Regions from separate parts of the Homo sapiens genome. Here region 1 is linked to region 2. The links come from fine-mapping of genetic effects on plasma protein levels. A gene starts in region 2. The other region holds a variant in brackets. All regions are shown on one strand. Distances are between the middles of the regions.

What was found. A credible set is the group of variants that fine-mapping cannot tell apart. PIP is the posterior inclusion probability: the model's chance that the variant is causal. Protein levels are from antibody-based Olink assays in UK Biobank. Linkage for the fine-mapping came from a reference panel and not from the study's own genotypes, which makes the PIPs less certain.
Region 1: its variant is the best candidate, but not a certain one, in a credible set for the plasma level of the GASK1A protein (UK Biobank, PIP 0.65). The variant lies in the coding sequence of GASK1A. If it changes the protein, the assay may bind it differently, which can mimic a change of level.

What each region holds. Positions count from the first base shown.
Region 1 is chr3:43,047,488-43,063,470 of GRCh38, reverse strand. It overlaps GASK1A (golgi associated kinase 1A), which reads right to left. Exons shown (of 5, transcript NM_001129908.3): 3 at 9,828-9,950; 4 at 7,936-8,039; 5 at 5,756-7,295. The coding sequence ends at 7,085. Among named protein-coding and RNA genes, the nearest start is that of POMGNT2-AS1, 31 kb to the left of the region's middle. RefSeq lists an enhancer at 377-896. The variant C/T (reference allele first, on the strand shown) is at 9,851.
Region 2 is chr3:42,970,300-42,986,282 of GRCh38, reverse strand. It overlaps GASK1A (golgi associated kinase 1A), which reads right to left and starts at 6,972. Exons shown (of 5, transcript NM_001129908.3): 1 at 6,638-6,972. The coding sequence starts at 6,640. RefSeq lists enhancers at 1,448-1,948, 1,949-2,449.

The DNA of each region.
Region 1 (15,983 bases), 77 kb before region 2:
GTGGGGCCCAGCAATCTGTGTTTCAACAAGATCTCCAGATGATTCTGATGCTGGCTCAAGTTCGCAGCTGCAGCCACAAATGGATGGTTTCAGAGTCTGCTCAGGCTCTCAGACGCAGCAGCAGGCCAGGGGACCCAGGATGATGTCTGAGAGGTGGGGTGGGGCTAGCCCAGAGCTCCTGCACTGAGGAGGTTGCTCAGGGCTCCAAGCATGTGAGCTGCACACTGCAGGAATCAGAGCACAAGGAAGACACCAGCTCCTGCCAGGAGGGGCAGCCCCTCCAGCCTGGGTAGAGCCCTGCCGTCCAGATGGCTCAGGCTATGGGAACTTCTGCCCATTCTTCCAACCGCGACTCTCGTCCATCGGAGCACTCACTCTCTGGATCAGCCACAACCTCTCTGGTGCCTTTGAAACACAGAGTGCCTGGGGGTGCAGACAGAGGAGGATAAGCACTCATGCTTCCTACTTCCACTCAGTTGATAATAGTCTGCCCAGCACGGGCCTACAGTATGGCAGAAGTCAGTTAAACCTCAGACCACTGAGGCACGTGGGCTGGCTCCTCACATCCCTCCAGCCTCATGGGGGATGAACGGGCCAAGGAGCTGCTTGGCTTCCTTCCAATCTCCAGGCTCCCAACCCAACTCAGGGAACCCACATCTGACATTCCACTCAGGGTGGGGGCCGTGGCTAGGGGAGGAGGAGCATCGCATTCACCCCTCCAGGGGAGAGCCATCGCCTGCATCCTTGGCCAGGCCTTTCTGGACTTCAGGATCCTTGTCTGCAGAACAAAGGGGTTTCAGCCAAGTCAGGATGACTCAAAGTGCATCTTGAGGAATGCTGACAGACGTTACTTAACGCCTCTGTGCCTCATCTGTAAAACAAAGATAACAGCAACACAAAGGCCACAAAAAAACCAAAGGAAGGGCTCTTTGACAAAATAAGTTTAGGAAGGGCTGCACTGAACAGGGCTCTGGCCTCAGGACCACAGAGCCTTCAGATGCTGCTGTGGCCACATCGCCAAGATGCACCACACCCAGGGCCTCCACCTTGGAAACTTCTGAAGTCAAAGATCTCAGGATCCCTGAAGCATCTGTCCAGCATCACGGGTAAAAATTTGCTGCTCCCATCTGTGTGGCCTCAGGCAAGCCACCTCTCTTTTTTCCCTCCCCGCTACCTCTGTCATTTGTTCCTTATCTGTAGGGTAACCATAATCAAATTGGGGTTGTTGTTAGTCATTCATGAGATAAGATGTGTAAAGCCCTTAGCATGAGTTATTACAGGTCTGTCCAGAATCCCATACTCAAACCCTGGGGGCCAGATGTGATTCAGAATTCTGAATCTCTCAGATTTAGAAAGGTAATATGGTTCACATGCCGTGCATTATGCAGTGCCCTCAACAGAGTCCGAGGTTACACCCAATAACCCAACACATCACTATTTCTGCAGTAAGTTGTATAAATATTCACACTGAGTGGGACATGAGTTTTAGCACCAAACATACAAAAAAGCTTTTGATTTTCATGCTCTGGGGAATTGCTGGTATCGCATCTAGAAGGTTGCGAACCTGTGTTACTATCTTCAGCTCCTCTAGCTTGGAAACCATCATTTTTCTTGGAGCAGCCCATTCAGCTGGGGATGCAGGAGGAGCAGGTTGGACCTGGGGTGAGGCCTGTCTGGCAGCACGGAGGCTGGCAATTGTGATTGCCTCAGCAGAGCCTCTGAGGCTCATCTGTCTGAATCGGAGCAGAACCCTCACGGCACCCCACCCACTGCAGACCCATGGCAGCTCCAACCCTACAGACTCTTCTACGCTTAGTGGGAACATACTGATTCCCAGCTGTTTGCTTCACTTGGCACATGGTTCTCATTCCAGAGGGAATGGCTGGGTGAACAGCAAGCACTGAGGCAAAGAGGCTTTCTTGAAAAGGATAAAAGTGGATGAAGTTTCCAGTTTGCAGGAAAGACACAGCTAATAGATTAGGCAGACTTTAACAAGCCAAGAGCCAAATGCATGTGAATGTGCTTGGCCAGGAGTTGCAGTTTGCGGCTCCCTGGACTAGAGAACCAGCCCTGCCACATCTTTAACAGAAAGTTCTTCTCCTGCTAATCCTTCTGAATCCAAAGGGATTAGCAGAAGAGGAACTGTCAGGGTGGCTGGGCTGGGGAGTGTGGTGGGAAAAGCGGTGGTCTTGGAAGCGAGACTTGCTAGCACAGTTCCTGATGGGTTTGAAGTCCCACCCTTCTACCTACAAGCTGGGTGACCTTAGGTACGTTATTTAACCCCTCTGTGCCTCATCTGTAAAATGGAGAGAGTAACAATCACACCTCCCCATGTTGTTGCTGTGAGGTTAAATGCTTTGATCCATGTAAACCACCTATCCTAGGGAGTCTGCCCTTCTCCCCGCCCCAGGTAGGAAGAGGTCAGTGTTGATGGGAGTGCCTGGAAATGGTGTCCTTCCCAGATAAGCTAAGGAGGGAGAGCTGGGTCCTATGCCACAGTGCTACAAGTGGCTGCTGTGCACTGGGCAGGCTGAGAGGGGCCACTCCGTATCTGCCCATGTGCCCCCACTGTCTATGCTGAGCAGACCTGTTCACATCAGCACACAAAAGGGCTTGGTGCAAGCTGGGGCCTTGCTCACTGACAGGAAGAGTCTGGCTTGGTCTTTTCAAAGAGAAACTCTACATACACACACACACACACACACACACACACACACACACACACACCACAAAACCAGGCAACCCTGCCAGGCAGATTTCCCCTCCTTTCTTAGGCGGCCACCTCTGCCCCATTTCAGTGTAAAGGAAACCTGCTCTCAGAATGTGGCTCAGTTTGCCTACCCTTCCAGCTGCCGGGCCAGTGCCTTCACCTGGATTACTAGTTAACTTTGTTTAATTCTTACAGCCAGGCAGTATGGAAATCAACAAAGACCACCCAAGGGAGAACAGACAGAGGCTTGCTACGGCAAGGGGGTCAGCACCATCACTTGCATTTGGCAGGGACTCCAAGACAGGCAGGGACTGGGAAAGCTTTATAGTGAGAAAGAAAGGGAAGGCTCCAGGTGCACCCTGATTGGAGGCTGCTGGCATGAGAGACACTGGAGATGGGCAAACTAGAGGTGGGGCATCCTAACTGATTGGTTAGGGGAGCATATTTGGCTTTCTCTGATTGATCCTGAGTTGGAAGTAGGGACAAAAATAAGGAAGCTGGCAGTCACTGACTAGGTCTTCACCCTACTGAGCAGATGCTACAGACATTGTGGTTGGTTCTCTGAGCTGGTTGCTACAGAGGTGGTGGATAGAGTTTTATTATTATATGTAGTTTGGGCATTGTCCACTTGCATGTCAGTCTCTCGGTGGTGAGACAGGATTAGATCTGTTTTATTTCAAAGCGGCTGGTTAAGTCACAAAGTAGAATGAGCCTCATCCTAATGTGAGAGCTCCACATTATGTTTTGCAATGAAATGTTTCTTTGTATTCCTTTCTTCTTGCCATTTTCTAGGATGACAAGTGTCTCACTCCCACCTCTGGCTGAGTGTAGGTCTACCAGGCAGAAGGCAAAGCAGAGACTGTTAAACAGAAACTGGCTGAGGCCTAGAGGAACAGCATCACTTGATAAGGGTATCCTTGGAAAGAACTGAGAACACAGGAAGAAGAGAGGAGAAAAGACAAAAAGTCAAAGTCAAATAAACATTGGTGACCTTAAGAGAAATGCCTGAAATCTCTAAATCCAAACTCCCTTTTCCAAGGGCCTGAGTCTTGCCCAGGACACTTCTACATTTCCACGCCCACTGAATATGCCAGGCATGTTGGTTTATTGCAGGCCCCTGTTACCTATCTCCTACATTAGGTTGTAAAAGATCTAGCAAAAGGCACAGGGCCCAGATGGTTTTATGGGAGAGTGCTATAAAACTTTTGAGGAATAAATGGTTCTTATTTAAACTCTTACAAAGCATTAAAAAGATAAAATAAAATTCTGAATTTATTTTATGAGGTATGTTTAAATTTAATAGTAAGACAGCCATGGAGTGCCCAAAAAGGAAAACCTTATGAATGTATATGCAAAGATTCTAAGTAAAATATTGGCAAGTTAAATTCTGCAGTTCCCAAAATACTAACATACCTCAGCCTAATAGGTTTTTTCTGAGAATGTAAAGATTATTCAGCATTAGAAAATAAAGGAGAAAAACTATATGCTCAATAGATATTGAAAAGAGCATTTAATAAAATTCAATCCCCATTCTTGATTTTTGAAAAATGGTTTTAGTAAGCTAAGAATAAAAAGAAACTTCCTTAACTTAATGAAAGATATTTATCAGAAATGATTTCTTTAAACCTGACAAAACATAATAGAAACCACAGAGGTGTTCCCATTAAAGTCCAGAATAAGATGTGGATGCCTACTATTGTTGCTATTATTACTCAATTTTCCTCCAGAAAGCTCCCAACCTAAGTAATAAGACAATAGAAATAAATGAGAGGAGAACACACACACACTTATGAAATATAAATGTAAAATTATCATTATTTGAAAATATTATTTTCTACTTAAAAACTATAAGATATGCACCTAAAATTCTATCTAGAAAAATCTAATCAAGAAAAAGAACTCATTCTCAATAGGAGTAGAAATTGCAAACTATCTTTAAAATGAGCTTATTTGCTGAAGAAAACATTAAAATGTTACTAGAGGCCGGGTTCGGTGGCTCATGCCTGTAATCCCAGCACTTTGGAGGCTGGGATGGGCAGATGCTTTGAGCTCAAGAATTCAAGACCAGCCTGGGCAATATGGCAAAATCCCATCTCTACAAAACAATACAAAAATTAGCTGGTCGCGGTGGTGTGCACTTGCCGTCCCAGCTACTCAGGAGGCTGAGGTGAGAGGATCACTTGAGCCCAGGAGGTTGAGGCTGCAGTGAGCTGAGATCTTGCCACTGTACTCCAGCCTGGGTGACAGAGTGAGACCCTGTCTCAATAAACAAAAAAATGTTGCTAGAGATTATCAAAGAATAGGTGGATTGATAAACCTGAATGAGAGCACTCAATATTCAAATAAGTCAGATTCCCACTAATTATAAATTCTATATAATCACAATCAAAACACCAATGGGATTTTGAGGATAAAAGGAGAGGGGTGGCATGCTTCATAGACTGACATTATCACATGAAAGACAAATGCACAAAAATAGCAAAGGAAAAAACTAAAGTAGAATAAAAATATGGGAACTCAGCCTACCAGACAGCAAAAAAGAATAAAGTAACTTTAATTAAAACACTGTCATACTAATGCAGGAACTGAAAAATAATATCAGAACAGAGTTCACAAATGGACCTCTGTGCATGTGGGAACCTAATATCTGATAAAAGTATACTTTCACAGCAGTAAAGAAAGAATGGACTATGAAATAATGTTACAGCAACTAACTATCCATTTGAAGGGAAATGAAACTTGTTAGATCCCTAACTCACACCATTCTCTGCTTAAATCCATATAAAATATAGGTTTTATATATTAATTTAGAGGGAATATATATGAAATATATGAAAATATATAAGAAATACTATATAATATATAAGAAATACTGTATAATACTAGAATAAAACACAGATTATTTCAATAATCTTGAAGTGGTGACAGCCTTTCTAAGAAGGCATGAAACTCAAAAGACTTAAAGGGAAGGATAAACAAATTTGACTACGTGGAAATTAACATTTTACACTTGGCAAAAGACTATAAACAAAGTTAAGAGACAAATTAGAGGCTGGAAGAAAACATTTATACCAAGTCAGCAGAGAAAAGATTGATCACACTTATTAGAGTCAAAGATTTCCAACAAATTAACAAGCAAAGGGCAAACATCTTAAAACAAAAAGACAATGCAGAAAAGAAAATACAAATGTCTGGCAAATAAGTGGAAAGATGACTTCATTCATGATTAAGGAAATGCAGCTTTTAAAATCGGTTTTCCTCCTAAATAGGCCAAAAAAAACCCAAAAGTCTGAGAATGCCAAGTGTTGGTGAAGGTGTAGAAAAATAATCAGTCTCCTACCCTCTTGGGAGAAATGTAAATTGACACCACCATTTCAGAGAGCAATTTGGCAGTTTCTCTCAGAATACTGAATGCCCATACCCTTTGCCCCAGAAATCCCGTACGGAAATCTACCTCGCAGAAATACTTGCACGCCATGCAATCATGTTCATGGCGGCAATGTCTGTAATTGATGAAAAATTGGAGCTACTTAAATGTTCATGATTATGGGACCAGCTAAAGAAAATATGACACATCCCTGCCTTGGAATTTCATGCAGTCACCAATAAAGATTGGGTCAATTCAGATGGCTGATACAGAATATAGTTAATAAAGTAAAAATATAGTGAGTTGACAAAGCATGACCACACTTTCATTTTTTAATTTGCATGTAGTGTGACCATGAATAACACACACACACATACACACCGCTAGGGAGTTTGTGGGACTTATGCTTTTTGTCATATGCTTCTATTTTTTATGGACTTGTTTTTACTGAGCATGTATTACTTTTAGACTTTTATAATTTTTTAAACCAAAAACATAACTGAGTAATAATTGAAAATTTAAAGTCTATAAAGACAAACGCATTATGTTTCATTTCTTAAGCCTGAGTCTACTTTCAGCCAGAGCAACTCCAGGCTGCAAGTGCAGTTCTATGAAGATTGTACCTTTATTAGGTTGGTCTCAGGTATTGCATGCAGGCGGGCACACATGCCACCCACACCTACACACCTCTACACACACACAAAGTTCTCCCACTCTGCATATGCACGTGCATCACACATTTTTACAGTTTCTTGAGCAGCTCACAGAACATTTTCGAATGTATTTGTTGGTGCAAGGGAATAAATAGCCAGAGCCGAGAAGGCAGAAAGGGACGCTTTGAGATTGAAAACCCCATACTACCTCCACCATCCCAGGCAGGTGAAATATCCCGTGACATCCTTGTGCCCCTCTGGCTTCTGGCTTTTCCCATTTGTCCTCAAGATGAGTGAGCCCAAGAAAATGTGGCCATCAGGATGGATGCTCATTGACTCAGGGCTGTGTGCGGCTTATGGGTCCTCGTCCCTGAAGAGTGTGAGGTTGTGCTTTTGGATGTGTCCCAGCAGCACCTGTCCTCGCTGCTCCAGGGTCTGGAGGACCTGCTTCAGCCCCTGGGCTCCGCCTTGGCTTTCCCAGAACACTGGGTCCATCTGCAGCGACTTCAGCAGCATGTTCTGTAGACACCCTGATGCGAGAACCTTCACGGCAGACTCAGGAAACCTGGAGCAAAGGCCCCAGAGCCCCGTAACAGAAAGAAAAAGCAACAGTAATCTCAGAGAATTTCAGTAACAGGTGATGCCAGATGGCCAGAGCTTGCATAGCTGAGGAACTCTGGTAAAGTCACCTGGCAAACTCCCCAGACCTGCACCTGCTATCTCACTAACAGAGGACCCTTTGCCTGGCTTTGCTGTGAAGGCAGGGGACAGACCTTTCAGATGGGTCCCATCCTACAGAGAAGCCAGGTGAATAAATTCCGCTATCCCAGGCTCCACTTGGCAAATGCAGGGCCAGAAAGAATCCTGGGAAGGCAGAGCTGCCTGCCAAGAGTGAGCTGGGAGGGGTAGACTCTCTGGCCTAGCTCTCTCACCCAGAACAAGGGAAGGACTAGCCTTCCCACACCCCAGCAATACAGCTAGTATTCTGCAGGCACGAGGCCCTCTGGATATTGGGGTAGGCCCTGCCAACTGTATCCCCTCTCAGCTTTCCCAGGGCTCCCCACCACCGCCTAAAGTTCTGATCCAATAACTTCTGTCTGATGGACTGTGGGCTTCTCAGGGCCACAGTTGAAGGTCCCAAGGTTTGCAGCAAGGCCATCAGGTCTCAGTCCCATGAACTTCCACCCAACCCTTTTGACCCTCACCCATCTATGCCCTCCAGCAGCCGAAAGTTCAGCTTGTCCTCAGGGTGCTGAAGGTTGCCAGCGTTATCGATGTAGACCAGGTGAGATGGATCGCTGCTCCGGACCTCAGGGAAGAGGGTGGACAGAGACAGAGGTGGGTAAGGGTGCAGCTACGGCTGGCACCTATGGACTTGGTCAAGATTAAGGGGCTGACAGCCCTGAGCTGTCAGTCCCACAGTCCATCCTAACAAACAGTCCTCACCGCTGAGTGCTTACTCTATGCTGGGCACTGTGCTAAGTGCTTCCAGACATCCTGTCAATTAATTCTCCCAGTAACCTTAGGAAGCAGGCACTAGTGTTAGCCCTATTTTACAGAAATGGTGGCACCTTCTTTAAGTTAAGCAATTTGCACAAAATCACACAGCTAGTAAGTAGCTGGGCTGTTTCAAACCCGGACCCATGGGGCTAAGCCATAGCACCATCTGCTAAATCGCAAGGCCAAAGGACTGATCCTATTTTGGTGGCTGAAGGGGTGAGGAGCAAGGGTGGGAATCAGCAGTTGCCAAGGTAGCCTGCTCCTCGGGGCCACCGGCTGTGAGGGGCATCGCACATGTGCTGCTCACATGTGTACACACACTCAGTCACCCCTTTGTGCCACCTGTGCCTGTGCACCTGGGCATCCCCCTGAGCATCACTGAGATCACAGACATATCCTTTATCCTCAAAAAGCACTGACCATAATCTGATTCTACAGAAGAGTTTAGCAGCTCCTAAACCTTTTCAAAACCAAAATCAGCACCAGAAAATTCTTTAGTACCTTAAAGAATATGGTGTGGTTGCGAATGGGAGGCCATCTCTTCTGGTCCCCACTCCCATGCATGCACTCCTTTCCCAAATAGCCTCCAAAAGTCCATGGGCATTTCCCACAATCCTCTCCAGTGGCCTAGGCTTAAGCTATGAACTTCTGTTTCCAGGACTCCAGCTTCCCTTCTCTCTGCCTCTTCTCCTTTCTCACCCCACTCCACATGTCAGGATCACCTTTTGCTCAAAGCCAGGTGACTCTTCCCTCTGGAAACTGCTGTCCTAAAAGATCTGTGAAATGCCTGCTCACCAGGGGTAAACAATGGCTATTAAAACTTTGTCTCTCCCATGGATATTTACCTTTGACCAGGGAAAAGGAGAGATGGCTCTGGGGGTAGGGGAGGAGAATTCCCAGCACCACCACTAAGCAATCCTGGGCTTCGGGTGATGCGGCCTCCCTGAAGCCCATCCCTGGACACCATGCTGACAGCTACCCTCTAAGAGCAAAGGGAGGCTGTGAGGACACTATGCCTCACTGCAGGAGAAGATAGAGAAGCCCTTCCCCGGGGGAAGCACCTTGCTTCTTATGCAGAAGAAGTGGCTATTCTGCCCTCTCCAATGGCCTCGGCACATTGCTTCCCACCCTGGACTCTAGTTTTGACAGGAGCAGCACCAGCCTGTGAGCCACTGCAGTCTTGGGTTCATGCCCTAATGCTGCTAGCGTATGGCCTTGAAGATTCCTTTCCCTCCAGACTGCAATTCCTCATTTACTGGCACAACGAGGATGTTGACTAGACACACCATTCTCAAACTCTACTTCCAGGAGCCCTAGTTGTTCCCTGGAGTCTCTTAGGGGCAGTGGAGACAGTGAAAACAAGGCTCCAGCCCCCACCCCACACCCCTCCTCAGGCACATTCTTAAAGCTCCATTTTGTCAGCTTTATATATTGCGGACTCCTGGAAATATTCAAACAACTGGTTCTGCTGCTGAAAAGAACAAGACTGGGAAACCCCAGCATCAACTGATCTCTGAAACTTGTTAACAGCATCTTCTGAAGGACACAGAAAGACCTGGGTCTGGGGTGACAAGGGGATGGTGTGGAGGAGACGTACCAGGATGTGGACCAGCCGCAGCT[C/T]GGCTGGGTTCTGGCATTTCTCTCGGAGCCTCTCTTCCACACAGGGGTCTGAGGGCTCAGGCTCGAAGCCACAGCAGTAGCGATCCAAGCGGTCGTGGACCTGTGGAGACACCCAGCCTTCGGTGGGGTGCGGCAGGGGGCCTGCCTCCACCAGGCATAGCATGGAGGCCACCTGACCTGCTGTTTCCTACATGACCCTGGGGCCACAGCAGGGGTGACCCTCACTGGTTCTCTGTGCTGGTCATTACTAAATGGGGCTTCCGCTTTCCTCCTCTGGCCAGATCACTCTGCGCACCAGGAGCTGTTTGCTCATGCCTCAGGCCAGTGTGGATTTTCACCCAGTGCCCACAGCTTAACCTACACTGTTGCTCTTTAGCTCTAGCCTGGCACCTCTGAGGCTCTGAATGCTGACCGTCTGCCTGTCTACCTAGGGAGATTCCACATCACTCTATTTTTTCTTTAAGCAGCAAATGCTACATCAGGGATTCCTCCTTTCTTTAGAGGTGCAAGTCCTTCAATGATCATCTCAACAGCTCCAACTGGACAGCTCTTTCACCCTGCAGCAGGCCTGAATCAAGCCAGGGAAAGAGGAGGACATCCTCAATGTGGTGTGCAGTCAGTTCTGAGGAGCTTTGCCACCCTTCCCCTGAATAGACACATACAGATGACACCCACAGCATTTTAGAGTGGATCAGAGGATTCCTAGAATCACACTTCCCACTCACTTGCTTCCGGGATGCTTTCTTCAGAAGGAAAGGTGCAGCCTGAAAGTCAGCAATAGGAAGAATCGTGGGTCTACCCCAGCCCTGACCTACATGAGGATAGTATCTGCTGTAAGTATCTAGGACAAAGAGGTTGAGGATGGAGAGGCATACAAGCAAGAAGTGGTAGAGTCCTCTGAGGATGGTTAGGGGAGGGCTTGCTGTGGGGAGAAAGACAGGAAAGGGAGAATAGTCGAAGTGAGGAGTTGGTTTGGAGAAGGTTTGGGAGATGCTAGGAAGTGGATGAAAGATGAAGCGAGGGCGGCTGAGCAGTAGGGAATCACCATCACACACAGGATGGGCAAGCCGGGGAAAACTCATTCTATTTTCCTTTTATGAAGGAAACTTGGTTTGATGCAATACCTCAATGAATGCCTAGGGTAGAAGGTGAAATCCCTGGAGGTCTGGGTGAGGGAGGACTTGCATTGCATGGGACAAGAAGAAAAGTTAGTTTCTTGCTGTGGAAGGAGGAGGACAGAGGAATAGAGAAGGTGAAGGGAAGCAGGGAGCAGCAGGAGGCTGGGGCTGAGATGTGCCCTTCCACAAGTTCTCTGTCCTTCAGTGAAGCTGCCGCCCTTGTGAAATGTTTGGTGGATGCTGAGCTTTGAGTTCAGGTTTGGTGTGGGGCAAGTCAAGGTAGTGCTCACGGCACATGAAACAGAAAGAGTCCATCTACTCCTTGGGATTTGTCCAAATCCTAGGAAGGGCTCCAGACCCCACAGGTTATGGGACTAGGGGTTTTAGTCGTTTTCTTAAATCTCCCAGATGGTGGTGAAAGTCAGTGGGGAGGCCTTGAGGATCTCTGGGATCTACCAGTCAGGACAATGACTGGTAGGTATCTAACTCTCAGGCTGCAAAATGTACTAAGTTCCTAAAAGAGCCTGGTGTGGGGAAGACCTAGATTGGACACTCTGATCCCATCTTTGCAGAAGGGCTAGTCTGAATTAGAAAGCCTGGGAACAACACTGGAGAGGAAGACATCAGCCTGGGAACCTGGAAACTCAGTATGAAGGGAGCAGAGCAGACCTCATTGCAAGAAAATTGTCATTATCTGACGTGTCTGGTGATTCCCTGGTAAACTCCACTAAAAGGCATGGTTTTTTGGTTGCCCGGTACTAAAAGCCTTCTCCTGGAAGGGTAGAGGACATTTGTTGAGAACATTTACTGGCAAATGTTTCAACACCATGGCTGTCTGAGACAATGGATAACAATTGGGACAAACAATAGATTAACCAAAAAGCTTTAAAAGGAAAAGATAAGAAATGAAATGTCCAAGGGGCTGTGAAAAGCTCCAATATGTTCCTGGAAATCTAGAAAGCCACATGCACATGTGTAGGACTGTGCACATGTTCAGGAAAAAACTGAAAATACCCTAAGCTCTCACCTCTGGTTGACCTTGAGACTATACAAGCACAAATGAAGGCAAAAGCAGATTTGTCAATTGCATACATACGTGTTGGAGATGCCTCAACACACACACAGAGTCCTTTGGCAAAGACTAGGAGACTTACTGGCTCCGGAAATTCATGAAAATCTCCTGCTCAATCATCAGCTGATCACTGAACTAACTGAGCAGAAATTTCAGTGGCCATATACAATAAAGAATACAGATGACTATAGAATTTGTTCATAAAAATAAAACAAGCAAATAAAGAAAACCACTACAAACAAAAACAACTACAACAAACAGCAATGACAAAAATCCTGGGGAAAAGAAGAATCTGATTTTCAAAGTGGCCACCTTATATTATTTAAATACTCAGTTTTCAACAAAAAAATATGAGACAGTCAAAGAAACAAAGTATGGCCAATATGCATGAAAAAAGTCAATCAATCAAAATTTTTCCTGAGGAAGCCCAGACATTAGATAAAAAAATTTAAATTAGCTATTTTACATATGTTCAAAGAACTAAAGGAAATCAGGCCTAGAGAAGTAAAGTATGAGAACGATACCTCACCATAAAGACTACATGAATAATGAGATAGAAATTATAAAGAGAAACCAAATATAAATTATGGAGTTGAAAAGTACAACAACTTTTAAAAATTCACTGAGAGGATCGAACAGCAGTTATGAGCAGGCAGAAGAACGAATCAGAAAACCTGAAGATAGGTCCACTGAGATTATCAAGTATGAGGAATAAGAAGAAAAAAATGAAGAAAAATAAACAGTGCCTCAGAGACCCATGTAACACCATCAAGTGTACCAACATATATATAAGAGGAGTTTTAAAAGGAAGGGAGGATGATGTGAAAATAATATTAGAAGAATTAATGTCCAAAACCTCCCCAAATTTGGTGAAAAGCATTGATCTACACGTCCAAGAGGTCCAGTGAACTCCATTAATATAAACTGAAAGAGACCTACACCTAGAATAAAACTGTCAAAAGCCAGAGAGAGAATCTTAAAAGCAGCAAGACAGAAGTCACTCATCACATAAAAAGGATTCTTTCAAAGAGTAATTTGATATCAAATTTATCAAAAACCATGGAGGCCAAAAGGCAGAGGAATAACATTCAAAGTGTTGAAATTAAATTAAAAAAAAGAGAGCCTGTCAACCAAGAATTTTATATACAGCAAAACTATCCTTCAAAAATTAAGGAGAAATGAAGACATTAACAGAACAACAAAAACAGAGTTTATTGTCAGCAGGCTTCTTCTACAAGAAATACTAAAAGGAGGACTTCAGGTTGAATGAAAGGACACTAAGTAGTAACTTGAATTAATGTCAAGAACTAAAAAGCTCTGTTCAAGGTAACTACATAGATAAACATAAAAGACAGTATAAATGTATTTTTTTTTGTTCTGGACTTCTTTTTTTCCCCTCTGATTTAAAAAAAAAAACTGCTGAAAGCAATAATTATAATCTATACTGATGGGCAGAAAATGTATAAAGATGTAATTTGTGACAAGAATAGCATAAAAGTGGGGGGGGAGAGATTTATATAGAAAGAAAGTCTTTTTACACTATTGAAATTAAATTGCTGGTAATCTGACCTAGATTGTTATAAATCAAGATGTTAATGGTAATCCCAGTGCAACTACCAAGAAAATAACTACAGTTCTAGTCACCAACTAATCTCACAAAACCAGATGTTAAGAAATGAGACAGCATTCAATAGTCCCAAGTACTGTCCCCAAACATTATTTTCTGTTTTATACAGTTAAACATGGAGAAAGCACATCTCAGGTCTAGATAGGCTGAGGGCAGTAGACCAAATGGATTAAATATATCCACTGATTCTAGTAAAAAAAACAAGTTTAGCCCAGAGGCCAATGCACAAAGCCCAGAAGATTGGTCCAGCTTGGCAAAGAACCACAGCCCTGTTCATGCGATAAGCCAATTAGCAAGACTTCCTGAGGAGTACCCTCTTTACTGCTTTGGCCTCCTGAACTTTGGGTAACCAATATTCAATTTTTCTTCTTTCCTCTAATACCCTATTATAAAAAATTTCAAACAGCAAATTTGAAATAATTTTATGGTGAATATCCACATACCCATTACTAAGATTCTACCATGAATATTTTATTATGCTTACTTTATGACATATCTATTGATACATCTCTATATCTATCCATTAAGTCATCTTATCTCTTATTTTTTATGCATTTCAAAGTAAGTTGCAGACATTAGAAATTTCCCTCTAAACACATTGGCATGCACACCACTCATTAGAGTTCCTGGTTTTCCTGTAAGAGAATCAATCTTCCCTGCTAGATACAGTCTGGTGGCATCAACAATCCAAGTACCCTGCACACCCAGCCATGAAGTGAGGATGGGGTCCAAGCTCCCCTAACCATATACCCTCCATCCTTCCCCTGACTCTTCAGGCTTCCCAGGCCTTTTTCTTCCATTCCTTGAAGCCCTTAATGTCTTACCAAATGTAGATTCTTTTCTTGCTTATGTTAACCAGAGTTAGTCTCTGTTGCTTGGAATCAAACTCCCTCCAAGTGATGCGCCCCCTGAATTTTCCTTCATCCAGGTTAAACACACTTGGGTTCTGAAACTATGGTAGATGCTTTTGATGCTCTCCATCCATGAACCTAGGGCTCACCTACAGAAGGTCCCAACCATACAGTCCCCATATGTAGAGGTACTCTTGCCCATAACAGGCTTGACCCACCCATGCAGCAGGCAAATGTGCTGGAAAATAAATGCCTCCAGGAGCAAGCTTCAAACAATGACTTATGGCAGTTAGTGTACAAGTATCATAGCCCCTCACCTCCCAGGGGAATGATACCCCACAGCAGTGTTCTACACAGTCTGTCAAGGGCCCTCATCTGGGTTCAGCCTCACTTGCCCATGGTGGCAGCCTGCTCTTTACTGTACCCTTCATTAGCTTTTCTTCCTTCCCTGCTTCACTTCCCCATTTGCTCACCAGGTTTCCTAGGACCACCTCCCAGATAAATTGCTCTATTCAAATTCTAGTCTCAGAGTCCCTTTTTGGGGAACTCAAACCTAGATAGAAACCCCTCATGGTCTCTATTGCTGTCACATGTCCAGGCTCTTGTTGGTCAATATTCTTATCATACTTTAGTACCTAGCACTGGACACAACAGCTGAGAATCAAGTTACGGAGTAGCACAGAAACATCGCCTCCCTGATTCCAGATGCTAAGACTGAATTAGCATCTTCACCAATCTTATCATATTGTTGACACCTATTGTGCATGTCTAAAACTAGCAAGTCTCTGTCTCATATGTGTCCATTCAGCCAGGGCTTCATTAACCTGCCTTTATACCACTGACTCACAGGCCCTCAGTAGACTTTGCATTTAACACTATTCCATTTCCTCCTTTAATCTTTCATTGCAACCCATTGAATCTTTTTTGGATGGTTTTGCTGTCACATTCATTTGCCTTTCCTTCCCCTGCCAATTTTAGGTTATGTGCCGCCAGACCAGTAAGCTACTATACCAATGGGAGTGTTTTCAGCCACAAGTAACAGAAAAACCTGACTCCAAATGGCTTAAACCATAAGGAAGATTGAGATTATCTACAGAAGGAAGTCTTGAGGAAGGGCAGGTTGGGTGGATTTAGCAGCTCCATATTATCATGATAAGGACTTGGGTTGCTTTCTGCCCTCCACGTTACCACCCACAATGTTAACAGCATCCCAGTGTTGTCTTAGGATGCCTGCAGGTAGTTGCTGTGGGAATATGTTTCCTTGTTCATGTCCAGCAGGAAAGAGAGAAGAAGAGTATGAGAGAAGGGGAGAGAGAGAAGGAACCTCTCCCCTCAACAACCGTGGAATAGAAGGTCTTCCCTTCAGCCAAATTAAGAGGCCAATAGCAATCAGTGGACCAACAGCAATCAGTGGAAGACGTTAATGCACTGATCCTTGAACCCATTGCCTCTGAATCCAGGAATA
Region 2 (15,983 bases):
CCTATAGTTTTGCCTTTTCTAGAATGTCATTTAAAAGGAATACCACAGTATGTAACCCAGTAGGATTGGTTTCTCCCAGTCAGCATAATGCCTTTGACATCCCTCCACGTTGTTGCATGGATCTATGGTTCTTTTCTATTGCTGAGGAGTAGTCCACCGTATGGACATACCACAGTTTATCCAGTTACACTTGAGCAACATTTGGGTTGTTTCCAGTTTGGGGCAATTATACGTAAAGCTGTTATAAACATTTGCATCAGGTTTTTTTGTAGACATATGTTTTCATTCCTCCTGCATAAACACACAGGAATGGGATTGCTGGGATATATGGTAAGTGTATGTTTAACTTTTAAAAAACTAACAAACTGCTTTCTACTGTGTTTCCCACTTTCATGTATGAGAGTTCCTGTTGCTGGCATCCTGACCAATACTTGAGGTTGTCAGGGTGTTTTGCTTCACTTTTTAACTATTCTAACAGATGTACAGTGGCTTCTCCTTTCTTCCCTTGACAGAATCCAGATCCTCCTCAGATACTCCCTGTCCTGGAGGCTCCCTCTGCCCCACTCACTCCTCAGGTTGGGTCTATCCTTTCTCTATATCTTCAGCAGAATATTTGGCCCACAGGGCTGAAGCATTTCCTTGTGCTTCCCTCTCCCCTGAACCTACCACCTACCACCTGCTCCCCTGCCTCCGCCCACACACACACACACACACACACACACACACACACACACACGTATGCACAGGCAGCCTCAATAAACTGTGTACTCCTCAGAAGCAGGGTATGTATTTTTGATTTTTCTATTTTCTGCCCTACACAATGTCTGGCTTAAAGCAGACATTTTATAAATGAATGGATGAATGAATGAATGACAAGACGGCAGGGAGACAGAGGGAGCATTAACACACATTTACACATTGAATGTGAATCCTCCATTTGTGGCCTTCTTGATATGCCACTCAGGAATTCCAAAGTCACTTGGGAGTAAGACTCAGTCCCTGCCCATGGAGACACCCGTTCCTTCAGAACTTGTGAAGGCCTAGAAATCAGAGTGAGGCCCCTATAACCGAGTACCCCCATTTTTCTAAGACAAAGAGAATAAGTTATTTTTTTAATTATTTTTTCTTCTATCTTCCTCCTTTTCCCTCAATCCTTGCTTCCTACTTAGCTCTTTAGAAATGCAGTTAGAAGCTCTACCTTCCCTTCACCAAACACTCCCTATATGAAAAGCTTATCTAACTATGTGCTTACTTAGAAGCTCCAGAGCCTGAGCTACCTTCCACCAGGAGCTTGCCTCGAGAGATAACAGTCAATTTACAACCTAAAGTATGCCCACTCCAAAACTCTTTCCCACCTGGAGAGTATCTCAAGACAACGATGACCTTACAACCTAGCTCTGCCTGTGATGGTGCTAGCTCAACTCCCTGGTAGATAAGGCACCAAAGCAAGTCACGGAGACCCCCACCTGCTTGCTCACTCCCCTGCATGCCATTCATGCCAAGTATTCATTTAAAGGACCCTGCTTTCTGCTCTAAAGCAAAGCGGTACCCTTAAAGGCAGGAGCCTGTACCTCTTCCCCTAAGCTAAGCTTTAGAATAAAGTCACTTTCTTTATACTAGACCTTGCTCTTGTTAATTGGACTCTACAAGTGGTGAGTGACTGAATCTGCATTTCAGTTATACTCCTGCTGTTTCCTCACCCTTCACATCAGCCCTCATCCTGCTTTCCTTCCACTCTTAGCCTCCTTGACCCCAGGATTCACCAGATGCTATTATAAAGCACCTTCCATCTTCCACTCAGCTGGCAGTTCTGGAGCCACAGGCTGGACTCTGGGGAATAGGACCAGATCCCAGGCCACTCCCAAGAGTATGTGTGCATGCGTGAGTGTGTGTGTGCGTGCACATGTGTGTGTATGAGTATATGTGTGATGTGTGAAAGTCAGCGTGTGTGTGTGTGAGAGAGAGAGAAAGAGAGAGAGAGAGAGATAGGAAGTGAAATCCACATAAAGAAGGGCGGCCTGGGATTTTCCCACAATCATGGCTCCCTCTCATCCTCAATCTCAGGCCAAGTGGTCCTTCACACACAGGCCTGTGCAGACACATCCAGAAAATGAGGGATCACGCCCTAAACTCCCTAGGCAGAAACACTTTAGCAGTCACATCACAAGATGATCCAAGCAAAGACAGCCCCAGGTGACTCACAGCAACCATGCCTCAAAGAAAACTGATGCACTCTGTGTCTCTACTAGTACCTTAGGTGGGGAGCAGACATTGGGCCTCCCAGACCTATTGGAAGGATGTCGGCATCTTTGAGGCCAAGCTGAAGCATGTTTCTCTCACTAGTCCCTGAAACAACTAAGGAACTCATTTCTTTGTGAGGCCTGTTCCCACCACCCCCGACATCCCTGTTTTTTGGATCAACCTCTGTTTGGTATGGTTGGGGCCAGTAGATTCTTTAAAACACTCTGCTCCCTGCCCAGCCCTGCACAAAGCCTGGGTCAGGTATGCAGCAGGAGCTGCAAGTAAGGGCTGTACCCCAGAAGAGAGAGGGGATCAAATTTCCCACAGGCTCCATGGGCTGCATTTCAAGGTTCCAATACCAGTTTAACCTCTTCTTTAGCTAAGCCTGATGACTTCTGCGACTCATTCAGTGCAGAGGGACTCAATGAGGGGACCCCAGCAGTAGATTCCAAGGACCTGCGGCTGTTTGGGGAGCTACATTCTCATCCAGTCAGCAGCATTCTGCAAGGGAGACAGACTGGACGAACATCTGCAGGCTGGGTTTTCCTGCCTGATGAGAAGAGAGACTTAAAGAAGCAAGAAAACTACTTGAGGGTAAATTTCATCTATACTAGATCCTTACTTAGAGAAGAGTCCCAGAAGCATCCCCTTGACTGGTATTGAATGAAAGGCACCTGTGACTTCCTTACCATTTTAGACCCTAACAAAAAGCAAACCTATTTTTGTGGGTCGTTTGTAAAGCCCCCAATCTTACAGCACCTTTGAGACACCAAGTATTTTCACCTCCATGACTCCATTTGCTCCTCACAATGACTCATTTTACAGATAAGGGGCTAAGGTTCAGAGCAAGGCAGCGCTTACCCAGAGCCACACGGTGACCTAGCCCAGCACAAACCCCATTCTGACTGCAAACCCCAGGCCTTTCCTCTGCCACTCCAAGCCACACCACATCCCTCAATTCTATGATGGGGCTGTAGTGACTGTGACAGGACCTACATGGAGAGTGGAGGGGAAGAACTAGGAGACCCGGGCCCTAGCCTGGCTCTAAGTGACCCTAAAGAGGCCACATCCCTTTTCCAGCTTCAGCTACTTGTCCTCTGAGTCTTAACCTCCAGGGATTTTAGCTCTTGGTTCTCCCAAGGAGGACTGGCCCATGTGGGCTCCCCTGGGACTCCATTGCCCCCACTGCTGCCTGCCTGATGACCTGCCCACAGCACAGAGTGAAGACAGGCAAGAGGAAACTCCTCCCACAGCACGCTGGGCCCTGGGAGGGTAGTTACAGTAAGAGCTTGGATAGAGAAAGAGGCCGGAGCAATTCATTCTTGTGAATTTTTCTGATTTCCACTTAGCTGGGCACTCAGGTCCTCATTTCCATGGATAATGAGAAGCTGGCCACATGCCACTGAAATCAGCCCCAATCCTGAAGTGACCTAAATGTCCAAAAATGGGGAGATGATTATCAAAATCACGGTACTGAGCATTAAATGTATGGTTATAAAAGATTTTTCTAGAGATGTAGACATGGAAACGTGCTTTGATATAAACTGAAGTAAAACAAATCAGACTGCAAAATTCCATGTGTGGTGAAATCTCAGCTCTTTAAAATAATACTCAAAGAGAATAGGAAATATGCCAAAATGATAATCATGGTTCCTGTAGAAGTTGTGTATTTTTTCTCAAAAATCAGGAGGAAAACATTTTTTAATTGGCAGTAATAGTTTCAACTTTCTCTATCAATATTTTTCTTTTTTAATTTTTAACCCAACACATATATATCTGATTCTATCAATATTTTTCATCAAGTACAGAGTCCTTGGCAAACACCAAACCTCCCACCACCACTGCAAAGAAAGAAACTGACAAGTGTTCCAATCTTCGCTTTAGAAAAATACACACCAAGCCATGGCAATGACCCCTGACTCCTCAGGATAATCAAAAATGCCCCCGCAGATACTGCAGCTCAATGCTCTTTTCTTTTTTCTTTTTTTCAAAAGGACATTTAAGGATTCTATACTTTTATTTGTATACTTCTAACCCAGAGTTTCCCATCATACGTATCTTGGATCAATAATAGGATGGCATTAGGGAAATACTGAATAAAGGATACCGTATTCAAACAAGCTGGGCAAGTTCAAATCTCAGTGTAATGAATTAAAAGACAATACTCTGTGGAAGGACCCTCAAAGAGATATAGCATGTGATATATGTGATATCATATAATGGGAAATGATATAGCATCTATCATTTCCCAAAAACTATTTTAGGACTATCTCAAGGAATGACCACTCTGTGGACATAGGGATATCTTGGGAAGTGCAGCTTTGAGCCCCAGCTTTCTCCCGTTCTCTCAGCCTTCTTGCCCTGTGGTTCTCAGCCCTGGCAGCACACTGGGCTCACTTGCAGAGCCTGAAAACATCCCTTGGTCTGGGTCTCATCTGGATTTGGGCTGGGGGATGGGGGCAGCCTGAGTCAGGGCTGAGAACCACTTCTTCCCCACACCTTTTTAGTTGTTCATGCTAAGCACAGCTCAACACTAGAATTGAGATCCAATCTCAAAATTATTCACATATCACCCATTTTTGGAGCTAAATGGCACCTTGAATAACATCTAGTCCAATCTCTCATCTAACAGAAGAGGAAACTAAGGTCCTCAAAGGATTCCTAGCCCCCTGTCTCCTCCCATGCTGCTTCTAGCCAGTGCCAGGCTGCCCTGTGGTCTCTGGACCTCAAGACCCTTCATTCAGATGGAGAAGCAAAGGACAGCCTTCAGATCTCCAAGGCCATTTCACTGCCAGAGGATGACCATCAGGCCCCTCTCTCTGCAAGTGAACCCTGAGACAGTGAAATGTTGACACAAGTCCTCTTCCTAACACAATACCAGAACCCAGAGCCAGGGACGTGAAACCGGGAAGCTGCAATGACTCACAGAACGGGAAGCTTACGCTGGCAGTGGGGCAAACACACCAATGTTCCCCTAGGCAGCCTGAGCAGAAGGCAGGTACCATCTCTCCTCCAGGCACTCTGCTTCAGCCGCAGACCACAGAGCCTCTGCTACATTTGCCTTTAAAGCCAGGAGACTCCAGCATGCTAATGCCCCTCGGAGTGGATGGCTGTGGCCTGAGTTCTGGTAACACTCTTGCTCCTAAACAGGGAATTTGTAATAGGATATCTCCACACTTTTCGTTTCACATCCTGTACCCCCAATCATTCCCCCTTTTGAAGCTTAAGATTCCACTATTTCCTTCTCTTAGCAGCTTTGAGAAAAAACCTGAAGCTGGATAGGTGTTAGGAGGGGTGAAACATACACACACCCCTAGCCTCAAAGGTACCCTTCCCTGAGCCCCCAGCTCCTTATGACCAGCCCTCCACCTCTGTTCCAGCCACCTGCCAGGCCCCCCTGCACACAAAGGAGCTGTTCTCACAGAGACCCTCCATCCTACAGCGCAGTCTCTAGACAGCCTTCTAAACCCCAGGCCCAGCAAAACTCCCCACAAAGCATCTCCAGTGGGTTCCGATCTGCCTTCTGTGAGCTTGGAAGGAAAGGGAAGAGGCGAGCAGGCACGGAAGCAGCCAGGGGAGCCCAGTGAACTGCAGGAGCCCAGTTGGGGTTGCAGGGGTTTTCTGCTGCGGGAGAAGCAGAGCAACTAACCAGCGGCCGGGCCTGAGGGACGCCCCTTTCCTGGGGTTGCATGTGTCCTTTAGCTAAGCCGCCTGGGCCACATTCTCGATGGGTTTTTCTTTTCTGCCTGTTAGTGTCTGTGAAGTTGATCAATGGAAGGGCCACGTCCACAAGATCCTGGTTTCATCGTGACATCCCAGACCCACCAGTGCTTCCACATCTGCCCAACAGTCCTCCTGTCGGGGAGGTAGAGGAAGGCGGATTGGAACCTTACTAGAGCCAATTTAACTCAATGTTAATTTAGTTATTAAATGTTAATAAACGTTAGGACATTATTTTTAATATCAATACATAGCTAAATTAGAGAAGATAGTATAAAATTCACATGAACTTTGGAGAGTATTAAAATGACTTCAAAAGCATCTCATCAGAGGCTGCCGTGGGTTCCCCAGGGAACGCTCCCCTCTCCCTGCCTTGTGGATTGCATGAAGATTGCAGAGTTGCGAGTGGGTTACGGTTAGGTCAAGGAGTGCAGATTAGTAATAAAAGCCCCCTTATTACGGTCCGCCCCACTAAGAGCGGCAGGAAAGCCGATCGCCCCCAGCTCTGGTGCAGAAATGAAAGCCGCCGCCGCCCCATGCAACTTTCGGGGAACAACTCCGGCCTCGGGAGGCCGCGCAGGCTGCGCGCGCCCTGGGCCGCTGCGCGTTGACTGCAGCCACCTGTCCTGGTGATCGCCCCACCCTCCGCTCGCGCGTTCCTTCCCGCGAGTCCTACCATGTCCCCGGCGGTGCCCCGGCCGGCTCCTCGGCGCGCTCAGCCGGCTCGCAGACTCATCCCGCCTCCCCTTGGCCGCCCCCGGCGCCGTGGCTCGCCAGGCTTCCCAGGATGCGCGGCTACTCGGCTGGGGCGGGTTTCCCGGACTGAAGGTGCACACGTTCTCTGCAGCCAAGTGGCCCTGCGCCAACTCTCGGGAGATCGCTGCACACCGGGATACTCCGCGGGTGGGGAATACACGCCGGATCTACTGAGATCTACGGGGATCTGAGGGAGCCTACCCGCGGCCGCGAGCCTCTGCGGTCTACTCGGGACTTTTGCAGAGTTTGCAAAGTCCCTGCCGCGCGTCCCGGCCCAGCTTCCCCATTCCCCTGAAAGCGCGGGAGGGGGAAGCTCCCTTCACAATAAAAGCCCTGCCGGGGGCTCGGCCAGCCGCAGTCTTCTGGTCTTCTGGAGTAGGGGCCCAGGTGCTAGGAAGGAAAGGTCTACGCCCTGACTGCCCGCCTGACGGGTGATGCACCAAGGCTGGACGGTGAGGGACGCCTCTAAGGTGTGAGGGTGCTTGGTGAGTTCGCTGCAACTCAGCAATATGGCTGAGTGTTGCCCAAACTGCCACCCTCTCCTGCCAAGCAGGACAAGTCTTTTTCTTTACTGTCGCTTGTCAGAAGGACAAGTCTTTTTTTACTGTCACTTCTTCGCCTTGTTTGGGTTCAGTCCCCAAGAGGATTTGGAAGGAAAATCCGTTGACCACTAAGCTAATTAACAATGAAGAGTTTTTGTCCTTGAGAACTAATCACTGTTAAAGTCACTGAAGTAAGTGGCTGATACCTCTCTGCTTTGGATGCACAGACAGTGCCTTTGTGTCCCCTGAGTCACCTACTGCCAACAAAGGCACAGTCAGAGCAAGACCTGAGAGTCTATCCGTTCCCCGTTGGGGAATGTCCTGGGCTTAGGGGTTCTGTAGTCCCAAAATCAGGGCTAGCCCCACTATTAACAGCTGGATGACCATCGACCAGTCCCCAGACGTCTTTATGACTTGTGTCCCCCAGTGGCCCAATGTTTGGACCCCAGGATTATTAAGAGCCTGTAGACAATGGATGGAGGCGAGGCAGAGTCAGCAGTAGGGTGCTCTGAGAGAATTTGGGGGCCAGGCTGAAAAATTAGCCTCCAGTACTGAAACTAACAGGAAGCATCATTAGCTAGATGAAGACAGGCATCTTCCCAGCAGTCTCCTGCCCCAGAATGATCTGAGGTTATCACTGATGGCAGTGCTTCTAAAGGGAAGCAAAGATCCAGAGAGTCCCCTTAAATTGTGTATGTGTGTATGGGCAGGAGGAACAGATGAAGGGAAAGTATTCGGTCCTTAACATTCCAGATGCTTTCTGTACATTATTTCATTTAATAACCACAAACGATCCTAAAAGGAAAACTTTTGCAAATTAGGAAAGTCAGGATTAGGGAGGTGAAGTAACTTTCCTGAGACCAGATCGCCAGTAAACAGTTTAGCAAATCCAAGTCTATTTGCCAGAACATGAAACAAAGAGGAAGACTTGATATGGCAGGAACAGGAGGCAGGATGTAGCACTGCAAACTGCAGCTTGTCTGTGCATATGGACTACTGAAAGGACAGAGAGTTTGAGCCCTGGTTGGGAAATGAGGGAAGAGGGTGGAGGACAGTACAAACCATTCAGGGTTTTATTTAGATGTTTAGGGAGACGCTGTGATCTTTTGAGTCTCATTTTCTGACTGTGACCCCACACAAGATATATATTAAACATATATGTATAAATGTAACTAAAAGATTGTTTTATAAAACATTACTTCATGTGATGCACTCTGACATTTTCTATTCTATTCCAATTTTATGTATTTTTAATGATGGTCTCAAATCACTAACTTAGACAGGAAGAGAGTGCCCAGTATTTCCAGGATTACTGGAAGCAGAACTGTTTTTCAAAAGAAGCAGCTCCAATGACTCATGGAACACACTTGGGAAAAGCTGCTGCAGGATCTAGCCCAGCCAAATAAAATGTCACACAAGAACATGGCTAAGCTGTAAAGAATTGTTTGTTGTTATAGCATATCCTGGTCCATCCTAATAACATGAATAAAATTACTTTTAAGAAGAATTACTTGAAAAGAGTCATAAATCAGATTTTTGTCATTTCTCTGCTCAAAACCTACCAGAGGCTTCAAATCTCCTGCAGTGTAACATGCCACATCTTACAGGGGCCTACAAGTCCTTTCACACTTTGGCCCTCATTGGTTCTCTAACATTATCTCTGCACACTCTCTCTCACTGTGCTCCAGGACACACTCACCTTCTTATTGTCCCTTGCATATTACAGGCAAGATCCCACCTCAGGACCTTTGCACTTGTTATCCCTCTCCCTAGAATGCCCCAGATATCCCCATGGTTTGCTCCCTCATCTCCTTCAGGTCTTTGCCCAAGTGTCACCTCTTTAGTGAAGCCTTCTCTGACCACTCTATTTAAGATTGCACACTCCATTCCTCTTCAGTTCCACCTTGTAATTCTTTTTTTTTTTTTTTTTTTTTTTTGAGACGGAGTCTCGCTCTGTCGCCCAGGCCGGACTGCGGACTGCAGTGGCGCAATCTCGGCTCACTGCAAGCTCCGCTTCCCGGGTTCACGCCATTCTCCTGCCTCAGCCTCCCGAGTAGCTGGGACTACAGGCGCCCGCCACCGCGCCCGGCTAATTTTTTGTATTTTTAGTAGAGACGGGGTTTCACCTTGTTAGCCAGGATGGTCTCGATCTCCTGACCTCATGATCCACCTGCCTCGGCCTCCCAAAGTGCTGGGATTACAGGCGTGAGCCACCGCGCCTGGCCGCAACTTCTTGGAAGCTATATTAAAGGGTTTTAAATTTAGATAACCAGTAAATCCCTCCCTTCTAGGAAACAACACTTCATGTTTTGTTACTTTCCAAATTTTTGTTGACTGGTGGTTGGCTGCTCCCAGGTTGTTGGCAGAGCCTCTGGTTACACTGCAGACCTTGCAAGTAGGAAATACTCAACTCACTCCACTGGGACAGGTTGGTGCTAGAGAGGAATATTTTATTATTTTCATGACAGGGTGCTCCAGGTTCATTAGGAGTGAGTCTATCTTTCACCAGTTAGCAGATTTCCAACTTGCTCTAAGGACGTTTTAGGGTTTCTTATAAACTGGTACCCCAGGCAGCGGCCCAACAGGCCCACTCTCTAATAAGATTCCATGTCTAGCTCCATTCCAGACTTACTGAATCAAAATTTCCAAGGCTTGAGTGTCTTTATATTTTTTAAGCATAGCCAGGGCTGAGAACTGCTGAACGACGCAATTCCTCTTCCTTGGCTCCCATATCCAAATGGCCTTTCTAAATGATTCTGGAATCTTTCTCCTCCTCACGGCCAGTTCTTTGGCTCAAACTTTTGTCATCACTTACAGTACTCTCAGAAACTCAACTAGCATCTCAGGCTCTACTTTTGCTCTTTCCAATCCATCCTGCACATTACTGCCAAAACGTAAACATGGGCCTGCCACTGACCTGTTCCACATAACTCTCAGGATTAAGTGCAAATTCCTCAGCAGCATAGCTTTCAGACTCCTTCAAGGTTTGACCTCCGATTACTTCTTCAAGCCTTTTACACACTCATAAACCTCCTTCAGGGCAGTTTCCTCCATCTCAAAGCCTTTTCTTGACACATTCCTATTTCCAACCTGACATACCTCCCTGCACCAGTCCTCCCCATCCTGAAGGTCCAGCACAGCATGTCCCCTGAAGTTTCTCTGTTGCAAATATTATCTCCTGTGACTCTCACTTCCTAGAAGAAAAGACGATTCTGGGCCTTCTGTCTCCATCTTCCTGGTACCAAGTAGCTACTTGATAAATGCTTCTGAATAAAGGAATGAGACAGAGAAGACTGAGGTTCAAAACTGAATCTACCACTCACAAAGCATGGGTCCTCAGCAAAGCCACTTCCTCTCCACTGGTTCAGGTTCCTCATCTGACAGATAAGAACCATCATCCCAGCCCAGCCTAACTCCCTGGATTCCTGCAACCATGTAATGTGCTCATATAAGTTACAACATCCAAGTCAGGACTTTTCTCATGGTAAACTTTCAAAAACATTTATTGAATCCAAGAATGACGAATGAGAAAAAAACTTCTTTTGCAGCAGAGAATGTTAGCATCCAGTTTACATTCTTTTTTTTCATTCACTTAACTCGTATATTTCAAGGGGAAGCAGTATACTTGGCCAAAAAATTATATATTTCACAACCTCCCTTGCAAAAACGAACAGCCAATAAGAAGCAAATGGAAGTCATTGGTGGGGCCCACAGAAGCATTTGAAGGGGGCTGAGGTAACTTACATTATTGTTCAGCAAATATTTACTCCCTATATTAGTCTGTTTTCATGCTGTTGATAAAGACATACCCAAGACTGGGCAATTTACCAAAGAAAGAGGTTTAATGGACCTAGAATTCCACATGGCCTCACAATCGTGGCAGAAGGCAAGGAAGAGCAAGTCACGTCTTACATGGATGGCAGCAGGCAAAGAGAGAGAGAGCTTGTGCAGGGAAACTCCGCCTTACAAAGCCATCAGATCTCATGAGACTTATTCACTATCATGAAAACAGCATGGGAAATATCTGTTCCCATGATTCAATTACCTCCCATAGGGTCCCTCCCACAACATGTGGGAATTCAAGATGAGATTTGGGTGGGGACACAGCCAAACCATATTATTCTGCCCTGGCCCCTCCCAAATGTCATGTCCTTACATTTCAAAACCAATCATGCCTTTTCAACAGTCCCCCCAAAGTGTTAACTCATTTCAGCATTAACTCAAAAGTCCACAGTCCAATGTCTCATCTGAGACAAAACAAGTCCCTTCTGCCTATGAGCCTGTAAAATCAAAAGCAAGTTAGTTATTTCCTAGATACAATGGGGGTACAGGAATTGGGTAAATACAGCCATTCCAAATGGGAGAAATTGGCCAAAACAAAGGGGCTACAGGCCCCATGTAAATCTGAAATCCAGCAAGGAAGTCAAATCTTAAAGTTCCAAAATTATCTCCTTGACTCCATGTCTCACATCCAGGTCATGTTGACGCAAGAGGTGGGCTCCCGTGGCCTTGGGCAGCTCCATCCCTGTGGCTTTGCAGGGTATAGCCCACCTCCTGGCCACTTTCACAGGCTGGCATTGGGTGGTCTGCAGCTTTTCCAGGTTCACAATGCAAGCTATTGGTGAATCTACCATTCTGGGATCTGGAGGATTGTGGCCCTCTTCTCACAGCTCCATTAGGCAGTGCCCTAGTAGGGGTTCTGGGTGGGGGTTCACACCCCACATTTCCCTTCCACACTGCCCTGGCAGAGATTCTCAAAGAGGGCCCCACTCCTGCAGCAAACTTCTGCCTGGACATCCAGGCATTTCCATACATCCTCTGAAATCTAGGAGGAGGTTCCTGAACACCAATTTGTGACTTCTGTGTACTTGCAGGCTCAACACCACGTAGAAGCTGCCAAGGCTTGGGGCTTGCACCCACTGATGCCACAGCCCAAGCTCTATATTGGACCCTTTCAGCCATGGCTGGAACAGCTGGGATGCAGTGCACCGAGTCCCTAGGCTGCACACAGTATGGGAACCCTGAGCCCAGCCCACAAAACCACTTTTTCCTCCTAAGCCTCTGGGCCTGTGATGGGAGGGGTTGCTGTGAAGACCTCTGACATGCCCTGGTGACATTTTCTTCATTGTCTTGGGGATTAACATTCAGCTCCTCATTGCTTGTGCAAATTTCTGCAGCTGGCTTGACTTTTCCTCAGAAAATGGGATTTTCTTTTCTCTCCCATTATCAGGCTGCAAATTTTCCAAACTTTTATGCTCTGCATCCCTTATGAAACTGCCTTTAATAGCACCCAAGTCACCTCTTGAATGCTTTGCTGCTTAGAAATTTCTTCTGCCAGATACCCTAAATCATCTCTCTCAAGTTCAAAGTTCCACATATCTCTAGGGCAGGGGCAAAATGCTGCCAGTCTCTTTGCTAAAACATAACAAAAGTTACCTTTGCTCCAGTTCCCAAGAAGTTCCTCATCTCCATCTGAGACCACCTCAGCCTGGACCTTATTGTTCATATCTCTATCAGCATTTTGGGCAAAGCCATTCAACAAATCTCTAGGAAGTTCCAAACTTTCCCACATTTTCCTATCTTCTTCTGAGCCCTCTAAACTGTTCCAACCTCTTCCTGTTACCCAGGTCCAAAGCCACTTCCACATTTTCAGGTATCTTTTCAGCAGCACCCCACACTACTGGTACCAATTTAATGTATTAGTCCATTTTCACGCTGTTGATAAAGACATACCCAAGACTGGGAAGAAAAAGAGGTTTAATTGGACTTACAGTTCCACATGCCTGGGAAGGCCTCAGAATTATGGTGGGAGGCGAAAGGCACTTCTTACATGATGTCGGCAGGAGAAAATGAGAAGGATGCAAAAGTGGAACCCCCTGATAAAACCATCAGATCTCGTGAGACTATTCACTATCAGGAGGACAGCATGGGAACGACCTGCCTTCATGATTCAATTATCTTCCACAGGGTCCCTCCCACAACATGTGGGAATTGAAGATGAGATTTGGGTGGGGACACAGCCAAACCTTTTTACTCCCCTTCCCCCTGCTGTGAGCAGAACATATATCTTTACTGCACTGTTGTTGGGATTGGCCATGGACTAACTCTGACCAATAAGACGTGAGCAAACAGAAGCATTGTGTGTGCTTGTGCAGTATTGCTTGGCTTTGCATTCTGATGATGCATCATGTGAAGAACAAGCACAAAGGTAATTTGATCTTTTGAAATTAAAGTTGTATTCTAAATAAGTTACAGTCTTTAATAAAGAAATTGAAAAAAAATCCTGTTTATCTTGGCTGCCCTTTCCTGGTGACAGTTTTTGAAATTCTGAAATCATCTGCTAAAACTCAAGTCATTTTTTGCTGCATAAGTTTTTGAAACAACCTATGCATAACCATCGAACGACTCAGGTGTAGTCAGTTCATCCTTTGTCAGGCTCCTTGTTGGCCTCTTCAAAGAGCATCAAACAGTTTTGGAGAAACAGCATAGAAATGTGTTAACTATAATCTTTTCTCCATTCTCAACCTCAATATATTTCCAAATTGAAGAAGAACATTGTTATGGACTGCAACCCCGGGGAGCCCTCACCAAGACACTAACCCTGCTGTCACCTTGATTTTGGACTTCCAGTCTCCAAAACCATGAGAAAATAAATTTCTCTTGTGTCATGGGTGGGCAATGACTAGCTGGGCCCGTGGCATGGAGGGGGAAAAGAATTCACCAAGACAGTTGTAAATAAAGAAAGGCAGATTTGTTAGACAAAGTATAAAAATACATTCCAAGAAAGCAATGAGCAAATCAACATGAGAAGAGATGACTGCAAAGAAAAAGGGCTTGCTGGAGATTTTATAGAATAGTGTTTATGCTGAAGAGGGCTTTGTGCAGTACTGATTAACACCAAGGTTGCAGTGAGCTAACTTGCAGGTGTCTGGTGATCCTTGGGCACAAGAGGGCTACATGTCCTGGACCATGAAGAAAGGCAGGCTTATAGCTTATCCGCTTCTCTTTTGCTTTCCAGTCTTCTCTTTTTAAGCCATCCAGTCTATGGCATTTTGTTAAGGCAGCCCAAGCCTACTAAAACAGACATCCTTTTGTCCCACACTTGGAAAATATGATTTTATGGCAGGCCAACATTTTAATATCTTTTCTATGGCTGACAACAATGACAGCCACGTCTAAAGAGGTGTTTTCTACTTTTATAGAGTCAAAAATCTTATTAAGTGCTTCTGCAGGTTCTGAGGAATTTTTAAGAGGCCCAAAATTTTCATTATAAAAGGCTCAATGTCAGGTAAGCAAATTATATGCCTTTTTAGCAGTATTGTATATAAGATATGCAGGTTATTTAGTAGGTAAGGTGTTTTCATTTTTTTTCTTTTTTTGGTAAGAAATTTATAGACTGAATGGAATTTGCCAAAATTTATATTTGCACTGTCTGCTGAATAGGCAGATTGCTGAGTAAAGTCCAGTTTGTATTTGAACACAATACCAATTATCTTTTGTGTTTTCTGTAGTTTTATTAAGCTCTTAATAGAAATCAAGAAAATGATTTGAAACCTCCTTTTTCAAATCAAAGTACCTAACAGCTAGGGACAATATTTTTTGTTGCTATGATTTGACACATCACTTAATGTACGGTAGAAAGTATGATCAGTGGTAAGATCTGACAGAATCAGCTCTACACGCCAGGGGGCTAACACAGCAGTTTCCCCCTCTTTTGCCCACAGGACTTTTTAGTTGCAACTTCTATAATCAGGAAATAAAACCTTACTCAGTTTCATGGAGCAATCAAAGGAACAATAAAATAATGCATGTTTGTTCATTCATGTGGTAAGCCCAAGCTAATTCTGTGGCCTCTGTGTTCCACTGAGCATTGATGTCTTTTGGGCAAGAGAAGGGATAAGATACTTTTGATTGATTAAGAAGTATTTGAATTTCTTATCCTAGACTTGTGAGATTCAGTCTCATCTGCATTTTTGTATCTCCTTCTCCACCATGCCCAATCCCAAATTCTTTTCATAATAGGGTGCAGTATACTTTGTTTCCGTTATTCACCTCCCTGATCTGGCTGGATGTGTCTTTCCATCTATCATTAAAATAAGTTATTTAGTCTTTTCTTTGCAGTGATATCTGGGTCATGCTGGCAATAGTATAATAATAGTTCTTATTTTCAATATCTGAACTCTTAGAAAACATAGTCATAATATTCACAATGTTAAAAATTAATCCAGCACTATCTCAATACAAAGTTCAACAGCTGATCCACAGTCAAAATAAAAAACAGACTGTTAACACTCACAATTACAACACACTTAAGATGGACCCTTAAATCACATCACTTGGAGTGAAGCTATAATGAATATTCCATTATTGTGAACCACAAATCATGGTTGTCAACATCAGTGGTCAAGGGAAAAATAAGCAAGAGCAACTACAAAAGGCAGATAATCTATACCTTATCCATTTGACACTAAAACTAGTATTGCTTTCAGCCCCTATTTTTTGGGCAGCAATGTGGTTTATGTACTTTTCCCCCAGTCTTCCCCAACCAGCACCAAAAACTGGAACTTTTCATGTCCCAAGCAGGGGTTCCTGGGACGTGGAACTTTCAATGCTAAACTGGAACAGTACTGAGCAAACCAGGACAGTTGGTCACCCTAGATTAAAGGAAGCCCACTGGATATATCAGTCATATCCACTTTCAGAACAGATGGATTCAACTAGCAA